3 separate regions of the Homo sapiens genome follow, and regions 1 and 3 are each linked to region 2. Evidence: fine-mapped expression QTL. A gene starts in region 2. Each other region holds a variant in brackets. All regions are shown on one strand. Distances are between the middles of the regions. Region 1 has its middle 13 kb from the start of MIR4322. Region 2 holds the start of P2RY11 (purinergic receptor P2Y11). Region 3 overlaps DNMT1 (DNA methyltransferase 1).

Region 1 (5,219 bases), 110 kb before region 2:
ACCCTTTGATGGGGGACCCTAGGCACCCAAGCTGGAGCCCCACACAGCAACACCAGCTCAAAGACTAGGACAGCCAGTGGGAGAGAAGGCAGACCGCAGAGGCTGAGGGCCTGCAACCCCCATCGGAATTCCCCTTCTCTAGCAGTTGAGACAACAACCTCTGTTTGGAAACCTGAACCCTAGATGGGATGGGGGGTGGGGTGGGGGAAAAAGGCACAGGCCAGGCTGGAGTCAATAGATTTTCCCCAAGTACCCACAGGGTTCTCTATCTCCCCCTTCAGGACTCTGCTCAAATGCCACCTCCTCAGAAAGGAGTCACTTGCTTATTACCTGGCAGTATATATTATTAAGTTGGTGCAAAAGTCATTGCGGTTTTTGCCATTACCTTTAATAGCAAAAATTGCAATGACTTTTGCTATTTCTTTTAATGGCAAAAACCGCAATGACTTTTTTTTTTTTTTGAGATGGAGTCTCGCTCTGTCACCCAGGCTAGAGTGTATGGCCCGATCTCGGCTCACTGCAAACTCCGCCTCCTGGGTTCACGCCATTCTCCTGCCTCAGCCTCCTGAGTAGCTGGGACTACTAGTGCCCGCCACCATACCAGGCTAATTTTTTGTATTTTTTTTTTTTAGTAGAGACAGGGTTTCACCGTGTTAGCCAGGATGGTCTCAATCTCCTGACCTTGTGATCCACCCACCTCGGCCCCCCAAAGTGCTGGGATTACAGGCGTGAGCTACCGTGCCCAGCCTACAATGACTTTTAATGGCAAAAACCGCAATGATTTTAGCACCAACCTAATATGTATCAATTTATCTGTCTCTACCCCCATTAAAATACAAGCACTGTGAATATAGGACTGCACCTGCCTTATTTACTAATGTATCTCCAGTGTTGTTTTTTTGTTTTTTTTTGAGACAAGGTCTTACTCTGTTACCCAGGCTCAAGTGCAGTGGTGCAATCACAGCTCACTACAGCCTCAACCTCCTGGGCTCATGGGCTCAGGTGATACTTCCACCTCAGGCTTCCTAGTAACTGGGATTATAAGCCTGCTAATTTTCTTTTTTTGTAGAGACATGATTCTTCCATGTTGCCCAGGCTGGTCTTGAACTCCTAGGCTTAAGAGATCTGCCTGCCTCAACCTCCCAAAGTGCTGAGATTACAGGTGTGAGCCAACTTGCCTGGCTATTTATGGCTCTCTAACTTTTTTTTTTTTTTTGATACAGGGTCTGACTCTGTCACCCAGGCTGGAGTGCAGTGACGTAATCACAGCTCACCGCAGCCTTGACCTCCTGGGCTCAAGCCATCCTCCCACCTCAATCTCCCAAGTAGGTGGAACTACAGGTATGTGCCAACACACTGGCCTGCTTTTTTGTATTGTTTGTAGAGACAGGGTTTCACCATGTTGCCCAGGCTGCTCTCAAACTCCTGGGCTCAGTGCTCCTCCCACCTCAGCCTCCCAAAGTGCTGGGATTACAGGCATGAGCCACCATGCCTGGCTATCTCTAACATCTTAAACACTACTTGGCATGTTCCCACCCCAGGGCCTTTGCACCTGCTGTTCCCTCTGCCTGGAATGCCTACACACAGTAGGTCCTCAGTAAATACTTGTTGAATAAATAAAACAAAAGCAAATGATGGTCATTTCAGTGAGTGTTAAGTGCTAGGAAGAAAATAAAATAGGGCCGGGCACGGTGGCTCATGCCTGTAATCCCACCACTTTGGGAGGCCGAGGTGGGCAGATCACCTGAGGTCAGGAGTTTTTTTGTTTTGTTTTGTTTTGTTTTTGAGACGGAGTCTTATTCTGATGCCCAGGCTGGAGTGCAATGATGTGATCTCGACTCACTACAACCTCCACCTCCTGAGTTCAAGTGATTCTCCTGCCTCAGCCTCCCGAGTAGCTGGCATTACAGGCATGTGCCACCAAGCCTGGCTAATTTTTGTATTTATAGTAGAGACGGGGGTTTCATCATGTTGGTCAGGCTGGTGTCGAACTCCTGGCCTCAAGTGATCTGCTTGCCTAGGCCTCCCAAAGTGCTGGGATTACAGGCGTGAGCCACTGTGCCCAGCCAAGGTCAAGAGTTTGAAACCAGCCTGGCCAGCATGGTGAAACCCTATCTCTACTAAAAATACAAAATTAGGCCATGTGCCTAATTTTGGGATTACACCTGGGATCATGCCTGCAATCCCAGCACTTTGGGAGGCCAAGACGGGTGGATCATGAAGTCAGGAGTTCAAGACCAGCCTGGCCAACATGGTGAAACCCTGTCTCTACTAAAAATACAAAAGCTAGCTGGGCGTGGTGGCACGCACCTGTAGTCGCAGCTACTAGGGAGGCTGAGGCAGGAGAATTCTTGAACCCGGGGGATGGAGGTTGCAGTGAGCCGAGATTGCGCCACTGCACTCCAGCCTGGGCAACAGAGTGAGACTCTGTCTCAAAAAAAAAAATTAGCTGGGCGTGGTGGCGAGCGCCTGTAATCATAGCTACCGGGGAGGCTGAGGCTGGAGAATTGCTTGAACCCGGGAGGCAGAGGTTGCAGTGAGCCAAGATCGCGCCTTTGCACTCCAGCCTGGGCAACAGGAGCGAAACTGCATCTCAAAAAAAAAAAAAAGGGGGGGCGGCATTTGTCCCTGCGACAGAACTGCTGCCGCCATTGCCGTCTCTAATATCTAATATAATAATATCTAATATCTAATATAATAAGGTCTCACCACAGCCACCAGGCC[T/C]TGGGGAAGCCACAGTGTGGCCGACTGGCCAGTCAGACCCCCACCGGTGCTGCCTCCCAGCCCCTACAGATGGGGCTCTGCACCTACAAGATCAGGCAGTTCCTGGACTGTTCGACCACTGAGAATGACCTGTCCCTGTGTGAGGGCTTCAATGAGGCCCCAAAGCAGTGCAAGTACAACCATGGTCTGAGCTCCCTGCCTTGAAGACGTTGGTGCAGACTCGAGGGCCAGCTCTGCACCCACCTGTACCCCTTGCCCACAGCCAGACCACAACACCAGATTGTACCTGGATAGCTGGGATTGGAAGTGAGGAATAGGTTTCTCACCCCACAGATAACCCAAGACACAAATGTGCAATTAAAAAATTTATTTTAGACCACCAAAACAAACAAAACAAAACAGAAACAAATAAAAAAAAGAAAAGAAAATAGTGCCAGGTGTGGGAGCTCACTCCTGTAATCCCAGCACTTTGGAATGCCGAGGCGAGTGGATCACCTGAGGTCAGGAGTTTGAAACCAGCCTGGCCAGCATGGTGAAACCCCATCTCTACTAAAAATACAAAATTAAGCAGGCGTGGTGGTGGGCACCTGTAATCCCAGCTACTTGGGAGGCTGAGGCAGGAGAATGGCGTGAACCTGGGAGGCGGAGCTTGCAGTGAGCCGAGATCGCGCCACCGCACTCCAGCCTGGGTGATGGAGCAAGACTCTGTCTCAAAAAAAAAAAAAAAAAGGAAAGAAAAGAAAATAGGGCCAGGCATGGTGGCTCATGCCTGTAATCCCAGCCCTTTGGGAGACCAATGCGGGAGGATCACTTGGGGCCAGGAGTTTGAGATGAGCCTGGGCAACATAGTGAGACCTCATCTGTAAAAGTAAGTAAATAAATACATATATACCCTGGTGTGGTGGAACGTGTCTATAGTCCTGGCCACTCTGGAGGCTGAGGTGGGAGGATTCTTTGAGCCTAGGTGACCGAGGCTGCAATGAACTGTGGTCATGCCACTGCATTCCAGCCTGGGCAACAGAGTGAGACCCTGTCTCAAAAAATAAAAAGTCTAATGTGTGCTCGTGTGCTGGGCACTGTGAGAATCATTTGACATCTGCAAACTTCTGGAATCCTCACAATAATCCTATAGAGTAGGTGCTATTATTGGCTTTTTGACAGATAAAGAAACCGAGGCACAGAGAGGTTAAGTAATTCACCCAAGGTCAAGTAGCATGGGAGTCAAGGGGCCAGGATTGGAACCCAGTGAGTCACTGAAGACCACACTTATATCTTTTTAAAATGTTTTTCAGCTGGGCGCGGTGGCTCACGTCTGTAATCCCAGCACTTTGGGAGGCCGAGGCGGGCGGATCACCTGAGGTTGGGAGTTCAAGACCATCCTGACCAACATAGAGAAATCCTGTCTTTACTAAAAATACAAAATTAGCCGGGTGTGGTGGCACATGCCTGTAATCCCAGCTACTCGGGAGGCTGAGGCAGGAGAATTGCCTGAACCCAGGAGGCAGAGGTTGTGGTAAGCCGGAGATCGCACCATTGCACTCCAGCCTGGGCAAGAAGAGCGAAACCCCGTCTCAAAAAAATGATTATTTATTTATTTATTTTTGGAGATAGAGTCTCACTCTATCGCCCAGGCTGGAGTGCAGTGGCACAGTCTCGGCTCACTGCAACCTCCACCTCCCAGGTTCGAGAGTTTCTTCCGCCTCAGCTTCTCTAGTAGCGGTGATTACAGGCACGCACCACCACGCCTAGCTAATTTTTTTTTTTTTGAGACAGAGTTTCTCTCTTGTCACCCAGGCTGGAGTGCAATGGCGCAGTCTTGGCTCACTGCAACCTCTGCCTCCCAGGTTCAAGCGCTTCTCCCGCCTCAGCCTTCCAAGTAGCTGGGATTACAGGCGTGCACCATCATACCCAGCTAATTTTTTTGAGATGGAGTCTTGCACTGTCGCCCAGGCTGTAGTGCAATGGTGCGATCTCGGCTCACTGCAACCTCCGCCTCCCAGGTTCAAGAGATTCTCCTTGCCTCAGCCTCTCAAGTAGCTGGGATGACAGGTGCCCGCCACCATGCCTGGCTAATTTTTTTGTATTTTTAGTAGAGACAGGGTTTCACCATGTTAGCCAGGCTGGTCTTGAACTCCTGACCTCATGATCCACCCACCTTGGCCTCCCAAAGTGCTGGGATTACAGGCATGAGCCACTGCGCCGGGCCCACAATCATATCTGATCCTCCTCAATATCTGGATCTGAAGATCCCATTTGTTGATAGCTCTCAAATCTTGGAGCCCAAATTAAAGTGGTCCTTCCAGCAGGAAACACAAGATGACTTTCACCTCCTTTTTCCCCTAGGGAGGCTGTTGCCTAATAGGGACCAACAAAGGAATGACCTGGAAGAACCTGCTTAAATGCAAATTCTCAAGCTCTATGGTCAGAGATTCTGACTAAACAGGTCTGGAATGAACCTAGAAATGTGTGTTTCTTACCAGGAACCCCTAATAATT
Region 2 (5,219 bases):
ACGGTTTAGGGGCGGCTGTGGCATTGAGGGGCAGGGCTTGGCCAGTGCTCTTGGCGTCCTCTGGGTTCCAGCTGTCCCTGTAGCCGGGGCAGTGTCGGCAGCAGCAGCCCAGGCTGGGCACTGCGGCCATGTAGAGTAGAGGGTGGACACAGAAGGCCAGGGGCATGAGGCCCCGCATCACCTGGTAGCCCACGTAGGGCCCCAGCTCCAGGGCTGCTGTGGCCTGGGCTATGTCTGCAAAGCTCGGGCAGCGGGTGCTCCAGCGCCGCCGAGCATCCACGTTGAGCACCCGCATGATGTGGTAGGGCACATAGGAGCTGGCGTAGAGGGCCACACCACTGGCCACCAACGCTGCCACACGCAGCTTCTCGGCCACAGTCATGCCTGGGCTGCGTAGCACGGCCCGCCCGAGGGCGCCGTAGGCTGCCAGCGTGAGCAGCAGCGGCAGGCCGCAGCCCAACCCCGCCAGCACCAGGCTATACGCTCTGTAGGCCGCCAGCCCGTGGTCTGCTGTCCCCAGACACTTGATGCAGGCCTCGGGCCTGGCCACGCTGCAGTTGCCCGCCCCCTGCTGCGGCCTCTTCAGGTGGGAGAAGCTGAGTGTGGGCATGGCCAGCAGGGCGGCCAGGACCCAGCCGGCAGCGCTCACGGCCCAGGCGTGCTTGGGTCGCAGGTGGCTTCGGGCGAAGAAGGGGTGCACGATGCCCAGGTAGCGGTTGAGGCTGATGCAGGTGATGAAGATGACGCTGCCCAGCAGGTTGCAGGTGAAGAGGAAGCGCTCCAGGCGGCACGCGGCCTCCCCATAGCGCCAGTGCTTGGGGGGATAGAGGTAGGCGGCCAGCGGGGGCAGCGTCAGGGCGCAGAGCAGGTCGCTGACTGCCAGCTGGACAGAGAAGACCACGGCGGGGTGCCATGGGCGCTGCTTCCGGATGCTGAAGCGGTACAGGGCCAGGCCATTGCTGGCCACGGCCACCAGGAACTCAACCACCAGTATGGGCCACAGGAAGTCCCCCTGGAACCCACTGAGTTTGTCGTCGGCAGCTGCCAAGAAGTTGGCAGGGCAGGACTTGGCACCTGTGGGCAGAAGGTGTCACCAGCTGAGCCCTATTCCCCCATAAGGCGGCTCCTGCTACCCCAAGAGCCCACGTCTGCCATGGCGTGGATCCCTGGACACGAGTTCTTTCCCCTCCCTGGAGGGGGACCGGGCTCCACTCCTTTATGTGGACAGGATTGAGGCTCAGAGCCAGGGTTATGCATTGGGCCCCAATGGACCAGCTTAGGCGGGCCAGGCAGTCTTGGAGCTCAAGGTCCACTGGTAACACAGACAGCGGCCACCCTACTCCCCCACCACACCTGGCCCCACTAGAGGCCTCCTCCCCAAAGTCCAGCCCCAGCAAGGCCTGCCGGCTCCACTTCAGATCTGTGCCGTCCAAAGCCCCGTGGGGGTCCAGCCCCCACTCTGCCCTGACCTTGGCACCCGCCGCCGCCCAAAGCCTCTTCTCCCCGTGGCCACCAGAGAGCACCCGCGAGCGCTGGAGTCCTGCCCCATCCTTTTGCTTCCAGGTGCTCACACTTGGCCAGGGAGTTGCCGCCAAAAAGCCAGACTCACCCCACAAGGTCCCCCAAGAGCGCTCCCGCCCGCCATACCCCCCAGTGCCACCCTCTGTGCTCCGCGACTCACTCCCTCGCACCAGCCCACCCAGGCTTCCTGGCTGCTCTTGCAGACTTGTGCCTTGGTACCTTCGCACCCAGACTTTTTTTTTTGAGACAGAGTCTCACTCTCATCACCCAGGCTGGAGTGCAATGATGTGACTTCAGCTCACTGCAACCTCTGCCTCCCGGGTTCAAGTGATTCTCCTGCCTCAGCTTCCTGAGTATTTGGGACTACAGGCACCCACCACCACGCCTGGTTTAATTTTAAATTTTGCATTTTTAGTAGAGATGGGGTTTCCCCATGTTGGCCAAGAGGTCTCGAATTCCTGACCTCAGATCTGCCCGCCTCAGCCTCCCAAAGTGCTGAGATTACAAGTGTGAGCCACCGTGCCCAGCCACACCCAGACATTCTTGAGGCTCCTCTTCCCACGTCCGTGGTCCTGCCTGCGAGAGGCCCCAAGGCCACCCTAACCACTGTTGACAGCAGCCCTCGTGCCTCCACTCTCCCTTCCCTGCGTTATTTTCCCCCATACCCTGCGCCACCTGATGACGGTGAGAAAAATCTCCCTCCTTCGGGAGGATGGGGGGGCCTGCTTACCCATTACTGGTGCCAGTGCTCACCACAGTGCCCAGGGCACAGCAGCACAGGGGCACTCACTCCTTGTGCACCCCACCCCTGCCTCTGCAGGCTGGGGACAGGCTTCTCCGGAGGCGCCTCCCTGCTCCCAACGCCAGCCTGCTTAAGGAGGAAGTGTCGTCTAGACGTGGCTTTTTTTTGGAGACAGGATTTCACTGTCACCGAGGCTGAGGTGCAGTGGTGCAATCACAGCTCAGTGCAGTCTCGACCTCCTGGGGTCAAGTGATCCCCCTGCCTCAGCCTCCCGAGTAGCTGGAATCACAGGCTCGCATCACCACACCCAGCCTTGACCTAGGCTTTTTTTTTTTGAGATGGAGTTTCGCTCATTGCCCAAGCTGGAGTGCAATGGTGCAATCTCGGCTCATGGCAACCTCCGCCTCCCGGGTTTAAGTGATTCTCTTGTCTCAGCCTCCCGAGTAGCTGGGATTACAGGCATGTGCCACCAGGCCCAGCTAATTTTTTTATTTTTAGTAGAGACGGGGTTTCTCCTTGTTGGTCAGGGTGGTCTCGAACCCCTGACCTCGTGTTCCACCCCCCTCGACCTCCCAAAGTGCTGGGATTACAGGCGTGAGCCACCGTGCCCAGCCCCAGACCTAGGTGTTTTACCAATACCCACTACCCCCACCTCCTGACAATCTGCAGACCCCCAGAGACAGCCAACATGCCTTCTCCTTACCCGAGACGTTGGCTGCCATGCTCCCGTGCCGATCCTCAGCCTGTGTCTGCTACCCAGTTCCCCAGCCCCTCCCCCAGTCACCAGTGGCTTAGTGGGCCCTGCCCCAGCCCCATCCCCAGTTACTGGCCCAGCCAGCAGAGCAGGCCAGCGTGCCTTTCCACCCACGTTTCCTTCCTCATTGTGCCACAACCCTCCTGAGGTTCAAGCTCATCTGCTGAAAGTGTGACCTGTCTGCTTGCACGGCTCTTTGGTGGGACTGGGGGGAGGGGCCACTCATGGCTGCTGCTGCCACCAATGAAACCAACCCCGTGCAGGGTAGGGGAGAGACCCAGCTTCCAGGAAGAAACCAGGTGGGAGGGACTCTCGGGTGTGGCCGGCCCAGGACTCTCTGGGTTGCTTTGTATGGCTCCAGAATCCCCCATCCCAAACGCTGACGTGGACCCCTGGCCAATTCAGTTCTTTACTGGAGTGGAAGGGCTGGGGACACAACTCCTTTATGAAAGGAAACCGAGGGCCACATCTCGGGCCCCAATCTGGGGCGTTCAATCCAGCCGCTGCTCCGGTGCGGCTTGGGCTCAGGCCACTCTCTTCCCTGGGCGGCCCCGGCCCCGGCCTCGCCCACCATCCCGGGAAGCCCCTCTGGGCCCCCGCCTGGCCTGGGCTCCCTGGGACTTGTCCTTGGTCTTGGGAAACTTCTGGTCACAAAGGCGACCCCTGCCTCGATCCATTTCCCACCGCTTCCGCTTCCGCCCTGGAGACTTGGCAAGCCGTTTCTGCTTGGCCTCGGGGAACAGGTCTGTGGGGAGAGACAGTGTCAGGGCCCCCAGAGACAAGGACAGGCTCTGGGTGCCCTGCTGCAGACCCCACTCCATACCCTCACTGGGCGCCTCGCCCACCGCCTGGCAGAAATACTCGATGTCATCATCTTCCTGTTCATCATCGTCCTCACCCAACTCCAGGCTCGCCGTCCTTGAAGGGATCCCAGAGGCCTCTTCATCACTACCCCCGACCCGTGCCTTCTTCATGCCCTCCAGGCTCTTCTTTCTGGAGGAGGGCGTGGGGGTCAACATAGCCGCCCATCCCAGGGACCCCCCCTTGGCCCTGCCCTTCCCAGCTCTGCCTGGACCTGTGGGCCTCCCGCTGCTCCTGCTTGCGCTGCACATTCTGGGCCTGCTGGGCCTGCCTCTGCGCCTTCAGCCGCAGCTTCTTCTCCTTGGCTTCCAGGATGGCCTGCAGCTCCTCCTCCGTCTTGCTCACTGAGCCAAGAGACGCGGGTCACCAAGATCCGGGTGCAGCTCCACACCCATGACCCCCCACCCCCGGCGGCCCCGGCCTCACCAAAACTGTGGAACATCACTTTGCCCTCCCCGACGCCCTCCTGGACCTTGATGAGCTGCAGTGTCATCCGCGGGCCGATCTGAGGGGACGAGGAAGAAGCGTCAGCCCACCGTTGGGACTGGTGGAGCCCGGGGGTCCCCCTGCCCTGGGCCTCACCTCGGTGAGCCGCACTGCACTCTGCTGGGCCCGCATGTTGCCACGGCCAGCGACAGCCTGAGGCAGCTCTGTGATGTTGTGGTCGCCGTCAGGCTCTGCCTCGCTCTCCGACAGCCCCGCGCCCCTGTGTGTAGGACATAACAGGGCTCAGTGGGGGAGCTCAGGCTCCCGGTCCTGTTCTGGGGTCCCCGGGCCGCAGTGGCCTCCCGCCCTATGCCCTCCTCACGTGGCCAGCAGCTCGCTGATGTCCTGCAGGCGGCTCATGTTGGGGAACTTCTCCTGGAGCAGCTTCTTCATCCCGCGACTCGCGCCCACAGGAACAACTTTGATGCTACTGCAGGAACATGAGTGGACGGCAAGGGGGTGGTCAGGGGGCACGTGATGGGGCTGGCGGTGCCCATCTCACCCTTCCCACAGTGCGTCAGGGCGTTTACTTTGGACAGAGCAATCACAGCGTCTCAGCAGAAGTGCTGTCATCAGCCGCATGTGGAGGCCCCCACCCGGCACCCCCTCGTCTCCCATCCTGCTGGGACACTCACTAGTGGCGGAAGTCCAGCTCCTGGGAGTCGGGGTTGTAGTCGATGAGGAGGCAGCGCTTGATGGTGTTCAGGTTCACCTGGAAGGGGAGGAAGAGAGCATAGTCCAGTAGACTCATGGCAAAGTTTGGGGAAGTGGGGGCTTTGGGGGATACACACACTGTTCGTGGACTGTGGCACTGGCTAGAAATGCTGCTTCCAGCTCGCACCTGCAGTTTTAGCT
Region 3 (5,219 bases), 61 kb before region 2:
CAGCCTCCTGAGTAGCTGGGATTACAAGTGCCCGCCACAACCCCTGGCTAATGTTTGTATTTTTGGTAGAGACAGGGTTTTACCACGTTGGCCAGGCTGGTCTGAAACTCCTGAACTCAGGTGATCCTCATGCCTTGGACTCCCAAAGTGCTGGGATTATAGGCGTGAGCCACTGCACCTGGTCTGAGGCTGACTTTATGGATGGTGCTGTGTCCCTCCATCAGAAAGGTGTGTGAGGTCTCTTCTCTGACACTAGCAGCTGTTGATCGGTGTTTAGACCCGTGATTTCTTAGGACTTACAAGATGGCAAGACAACATTCTAAACCCGTCATTCAGAGAAACATTAAACTTGAAGCCTCTTTCAACATCCTGGTGAATGAGGGTCCACTTCAGGCCAGCTGGAGGCCTAGGGTCTTGTTCCACTAATGGTTGGCCTCACTGTGTGTGACAGCCCTGCCAAACGGAAACCTCAGGAAGAGTCTGAAAGAGCCAAATCGGATGAGTCCATCAAGGAAGAAGACAAAGACCAGGTAGGGCCAGTGCTTTCATTTCCTGACTCTACCTTAACTTGGTGTATTTGATGATTGTGACTTCATATGTGTTCTGTCCAAGTAAATAAAAACCCTGTCTAGGGCTCTATTTAGGGCTCTCCAGAGAGACAGGACCAATAGAATGTATATGTGTGTATACAGCTATAGGTACATATATACATATGCACGTGTATGTATATATATATAATTCGTTTGATTTTTTTCTTGTTTTTATGGGTACATAGTTGGAATATATATTTATGGGGAGAGACTTTATTTTGAGAAATTGGCTCACAAGATTGTGAAAGCCAGCAAATTTGAAATCTGCAGGGCAGGCTGGAGGTCCAGGGGAGAAATGATGTCATAGCTCAAGTGGCAAGGCAGTCTTACATACATACATGTTATATATATGTGTGTGTGTGTGTGTGTGTGTGTGTGTGTGTGTGTGTGTGTGTATGTATGTATGTATTTAGACTTCTTTTTTTGAGACTTTTTTTTTTTTTTGAGACAGGGTTTTGCTCTTGTGGCACAATCTTGGTTCATTGCAACCTCAGCCTCCCGGGTTCAAGTGATTCTCCTGCTTCAGCCTCCCGAGTAGCTGGGACTACAGGCGCGTGCCACCACGCCCGGCTAATTTTTGTATTTTAGTAGGGATGGGGTTTCACCATGTTGCCCAGGCTGGTCTCCCATGTTGCCCAGGCTGGTCTCGAACTCCTTGAGCTTAGGCAATCTGCCCGCCTCAGCCTCCCAAAGTGCCAGGATTATAGGTGTGAGCCACCGTGCCCAGCCAATTTGTTTTTTTTGTTGTTGTTGTTGTTGTTTTTAATTTTTTTTAGATGGAGTCTCACTCTTTCACTCAGGATGGAGTGCAGTGGCACGATCTCAGCTCACTGCAACCTCCGCCTCCTGGGTTCAAGTGACTCTCCATCCTCAGCTTCCTGAGTAGCTGAGACTACAAGGCATGTGCCATCATACCCAGCTAATTTTTATATTTTTAGTAGAGATGGGATTTCACTGTGTTGGCCAGGCTGGTCTTGAACTCCTGACCTCAAGTGATCCACCCGCTTCAGCCTCCCAAAGTGTTGGGATTACAGTTCTGTCTTTTTTCTTTTCTTTTCTTTTCTTTGAGACAGGTCTCATTCTGTCACCAGGCTGGGGTGCAGTGGCGCAGTCATGGCTCACTGCAGCCTCAACCTCCTGGGCTTAAGCGATCCTCCCACCTCACCCTCCCAAGCAGCTGGGACTACAGGCGCATGCCAATGAGCTAAGTTTTGTATTTTTTGTAGAGATGAGGTTTCCCATGTTGCCCAGACTGGTCTCTAACAAATAAATTAAACAAATTCCTGACACAAGATGGAGAATCTTTGATTCTTTTACATAGTATCACCAGGCGATCTCTAGTGATGGGCAGTGTGCCTGCCTACTTCTCGGACCTGCTTTTGTTTTGGGGTTGGTGGGGATTAATACCAGAGTAAGAGTTTCTCAGATCTTCTCCCCAAAACCCAGGCCCCTTCTTTTCCCACTCTTGCTCTAACCATGTCAAATGTGTTAATATTTCAACTCACACTTTTGGTGTTGACCTTCCCTTGAAACCAGTATTCTAATCTTTTTTGTTCTTCCTTCCCTCCACACAGGATGAGAAGAGACGTAGAGTTACATCCAGAGAACGGTAAGAATAGTTACTATACCTTTCTTTTTGTTCTACGAGTTGTGTAATCTTGATCACAAAACTTTTTCAGAAAGTTTAAGGCCGGGCACGGTGACTCATGCCTGTAATCTCAGCACTTTGGGAGGCCAAGATGGGCGAATCACTTGAGGTCAGGAGTTCAAGACCAGCCTGACCAACATGGCGAAACCCCGTCTCTACTAAAAATTCAAAACTTA[G/A]CTGGGCGTGGTGGAATGTGCCTTTAATCCCAGCTACTCAGGAGGCTGAGTCAGAAGGATTGCTTGAACCCAGGAGGTAGAGGCTGCAGTGATCTGAGATCATTCCACTGCACTCCAGCCTGAGTGACAGAGCAAGACTCCATCTCAAAAAAAAAAAAAAAAGTTTAAAAAGAAGAACTTTATCGTGTGTTTCCATGGCAACCATATCGTTATGAAGTATCTGAATTTGGGGTCAGATCATTAGCGTTTAGATTCAAGTAGAATTCTCCTGTTTTCTTGGAAGGAATGAATCGAGGGCAGCTGGCATTCGAACCAGGTGTAAAAGTCATATCAAATACTAAATGTTAAATGAGTATGTGTCTGTCAGGGCTCCTGAGATAATGAAGATTGCTTTTGGGGGAAAGAGGAGCTTTATGAAAACTGCTTCTTTGGGGAAGCTCCTGGCACTCACACTTGGGGTCTGTGTTATTTTGCTTGACAGAGTTGCTAGACCGCTTCCTGCAGAAGAACCTGAAAGAGCAAAATCAGGAACGCGCACTGAAAAGGAAGAAGAAAGAGATGAAAAAGTAAAGCTCTATCACCTCTAAGTTTGTTAATTCTCCCTTAATCCTATATGGTCCCAATTTCCTTCCAGGACGTGGGGACAGGGGGTGGGGAACGTGGAAGAACAAGATGGGTTTTGCTAGTGATCGAAATGCCTTTGACTTTGGCTAAACACCTTTCAAACTTGTTTTCTCGTGGTCTCTACATGAAAGGTGGGTTATGAGATTGTGATAGTGAGGACCCTTGCTACTTATTTGTGATATTTTATTTTATTTTATTTATTTATTTATTTTTGAGACAGTCTCCCACTCTGTCACCCAGGCTGGAATGAGTACAGAGGTGCGATCTCGGCTCGTTGCAACCTCTGCCTCCCAGGTTCAAGTGATTCTCATGTCCCAGCCTCTTGAGTCACTGGGACTACAGGCGCCCGCCGCCATACTCGGCTAATTTTAGTGGAGATGGGGTTTCACTGTGTTGGCCAGGCTGATCTTGAACTCCTGACCTCGAGTGATCCACCTGCCTCAGCCACCAAAGTGCTAGGATTACAGGCATGAGCCACCACACCGGCCAACCTATGCCACTTAATCAACTAGTCACAGAGCTTCAGTTTGTCACCTCGCCTTCTTGCTTCTCTGGCTGATGAGATCTTTGTGAAGATCTAATTTTCAGACGTACGAGGTGCTAAAACTTTTTTTTTTTTTTTTTTTGAGATGGAGTCTTGCTCTGTTGCCCAGGCTGGAATGCAGTGGTGTGATCTTGTCTCACCGCAACCTCTGCCTCCCGGGTTCTTGTGCCTCAGCCTCCTGAGTAGCTGGGATTACAGGTGCCTGCCACCACAGCCAGATAATTTTGTATTTTTAGTAAAGATGGGGTTTCTCCATGTTGATCAGGCTGGTCTTGAACTCCCAATCTCAGGTGATCCACCTGCCTTGGCCTCCCAAAGTGCTGGGATTATAGGCGTGAGCCACCACACCCGGCCTAAAATACTTTTCAAACTTATTTTTTTGTAGTTCTCTACATGGAAGGTGGGTTATGAGGTTGTCATAGCGAGGATCTTTGCTACTTATTTGTGGTATTTATTTAATTTAATTTAATTTTTTTTTTTTGAGACAGTCTCCCGCTCTATCACCCAGGCTGGAGTGCAGAGGTGCGATCTTGGCTCATTGCAACCTCCGCCTCCCAGGTTCAAGTAATTCTCATGTCCCAGCCTCCCAACTAGCTGGGGCTACAGGCGCCTGCCACCACACCTGGCTAATTTTTGTGTTTTTATTTATTTATTTATTTATTTATTTATTTATTTATTTATTTGAGACGGAGTCTCGCTCTGTCGCCCAGGCTGAAGTGCAGTGGCTTGATCTCCGCTCACTGCAAGCTCCACCTCCTGGGTTCACACCATTCTCCTGCCTCAGCCTCCCGAGTAGCTGGGACCACAGGCGCCTGCCACCATGCCCGGCTAATTTTTTGTATTTTTAGTAGAGAAGGGGTTTCACCACGTTAGCCAGGATGGTCTTGATCTCCTGACCTCGTGATCCTCCCATCTCGGCCTCCCAAAGTGCTGGGATTACAGGCGTGAACCACCGCGCCTAGCCAATTTTTGTGTTTTTAGTAGAGACGGGGTTTCACCATGTTGGCCAGGCTGGTCTCAAACTGCTGACCTCGAACGGTCCACCTGCCTCAGCCATCAAAGTGCTGGGATTACAGGCACGAGCCACCACACCGGCCAACCTATGCTACTTAAATCAACTAGTCAGTTTCAGTCTGTCACCTCAGCCACCTTCTCTGGCTGACGAGATCTTGGTGAAGATCTAATTTTCAGATGTAGGAGGTGCTAAAATTCTTTAGCATCATCCAGACATAAAGTTGTATTCTCCTCTCTGAAGTCAGACCAGCTCTTTCCCCAGTCCCTCATCTTCTTTGTAAAATCTGAGTCTAAGGTTCTATGCAATACAGATGCTGGGTCCTGTTTTTTTTTCTGTTTGTTTTGTTTTTTAATAAGATGACTGAGGGCCGGGTGTGGTGGCTCATGCCTGTAATTCTAGCATTTTGGGAGGCCGAGGTGGGTGGATCGCTTGAGCTCAGGAGTTCAGGGCCAGCCTGGGCAATGTAGTGAGACCCCGTCTCTGCAAAAAATACAAAAATCAGCTGGATGTGGTGGAGCTTACAACAGGCAGTGTGCCTGTAGTTCCAGCTTCTCAGGAGGCTGAGGCAGGAAGATCACTTGAGCTCAGGAGGCTGAGGATACAGTGAGCCATGATTGTCCCA

Evidence for each region. PIP is the estimated chance that this variant, and not a neighbour inherited with it, causes the effect.
Region 1: its variant is fine-mapped to the expression of P2RY11 in fibroblasts (GTEx, PIP 0.99).
Region 3: its variant is fine-mapped to the expression of P2RY11 in whole blood (TOPMed, PIP 0.94).

Annotation. Positions count from the first base shown.
Region 1 is chr19:10,214,874-10,220,092 of GRCh38, reverse strand. It overlaps the pseudogene LOC103689916. Among named protein-coding and RNA genes, the nearest start is that of MIR4322, 13 kb to the left of the region's middle. RefSeq lists enhancers at 1-26, 1-206, 337-386, 27-527. The variant T/C (reference allele first, on the strand shown) is at 2,725.
Region 2 is chr19:10,109,488-10,114,706 of GRCh38, reverse strand. P2RY11 (purinergic receptor P2Y11) reads right to left here and starts at 3,014. Exons shown (of 2, transcript NM_002566.5): 1 at 2,967-3,014; 2 at 1-1,074. The coding sequence starts at 2,985. It overlaps PPAN (peter pan homolog), which reads right to left. Exons shown (of 12, transcript NM_020230.7): 6 at 5,000-5,076; 7 at 4,687-4,794; 8 at 4,461-4,584; 9 at 4,305-4,383; 10 at 4,093-4,222; 11 at 3,841-4,010; 12 at 2,695-3,762. The coding sequence ends at 3,542. PPAN-P2RY11 (PPAN-P2RY11 readthrough) reads right to left here. Exons shown (of 13, transcript NM_001198690.2): 6 at 5,000-5,076; 7 at 4,687-4,794; 8 at 4,461-4,584; 9 at 4,305-4,383; 10 at 4,093-4,222; 11 at 3,841-4,010; 12 at 3,623-3,762; 13 at 1-1,074. The coding sequence ends at 853. SNORD105B (small nucleolar RNA, C/D box 105B) reads right to left here and starts at 4,958; the gene lies at 4,867-4,958. RefSeq lists a silencer at 740-1,034 and enhancers at 1,195-1,264, 4,640-5,219.
Region 3 is chr19:10,170,851-10,176,069 of GRCh38, reverse strand. DNMT1 (DNA methyltransferase 1) reads left to right here. Exons shown (of 41, transcript NM_001130823.3): 7 at 452-530; 8 at 2,165-2,199; 9 at 2,896-2,980. Among named protein-coding and RNA genes, the nearest start is that of DNMT1, 21 kb to the left of the region's middle. The variant G/A (reference allele first, on the strand shown) is at 2,415.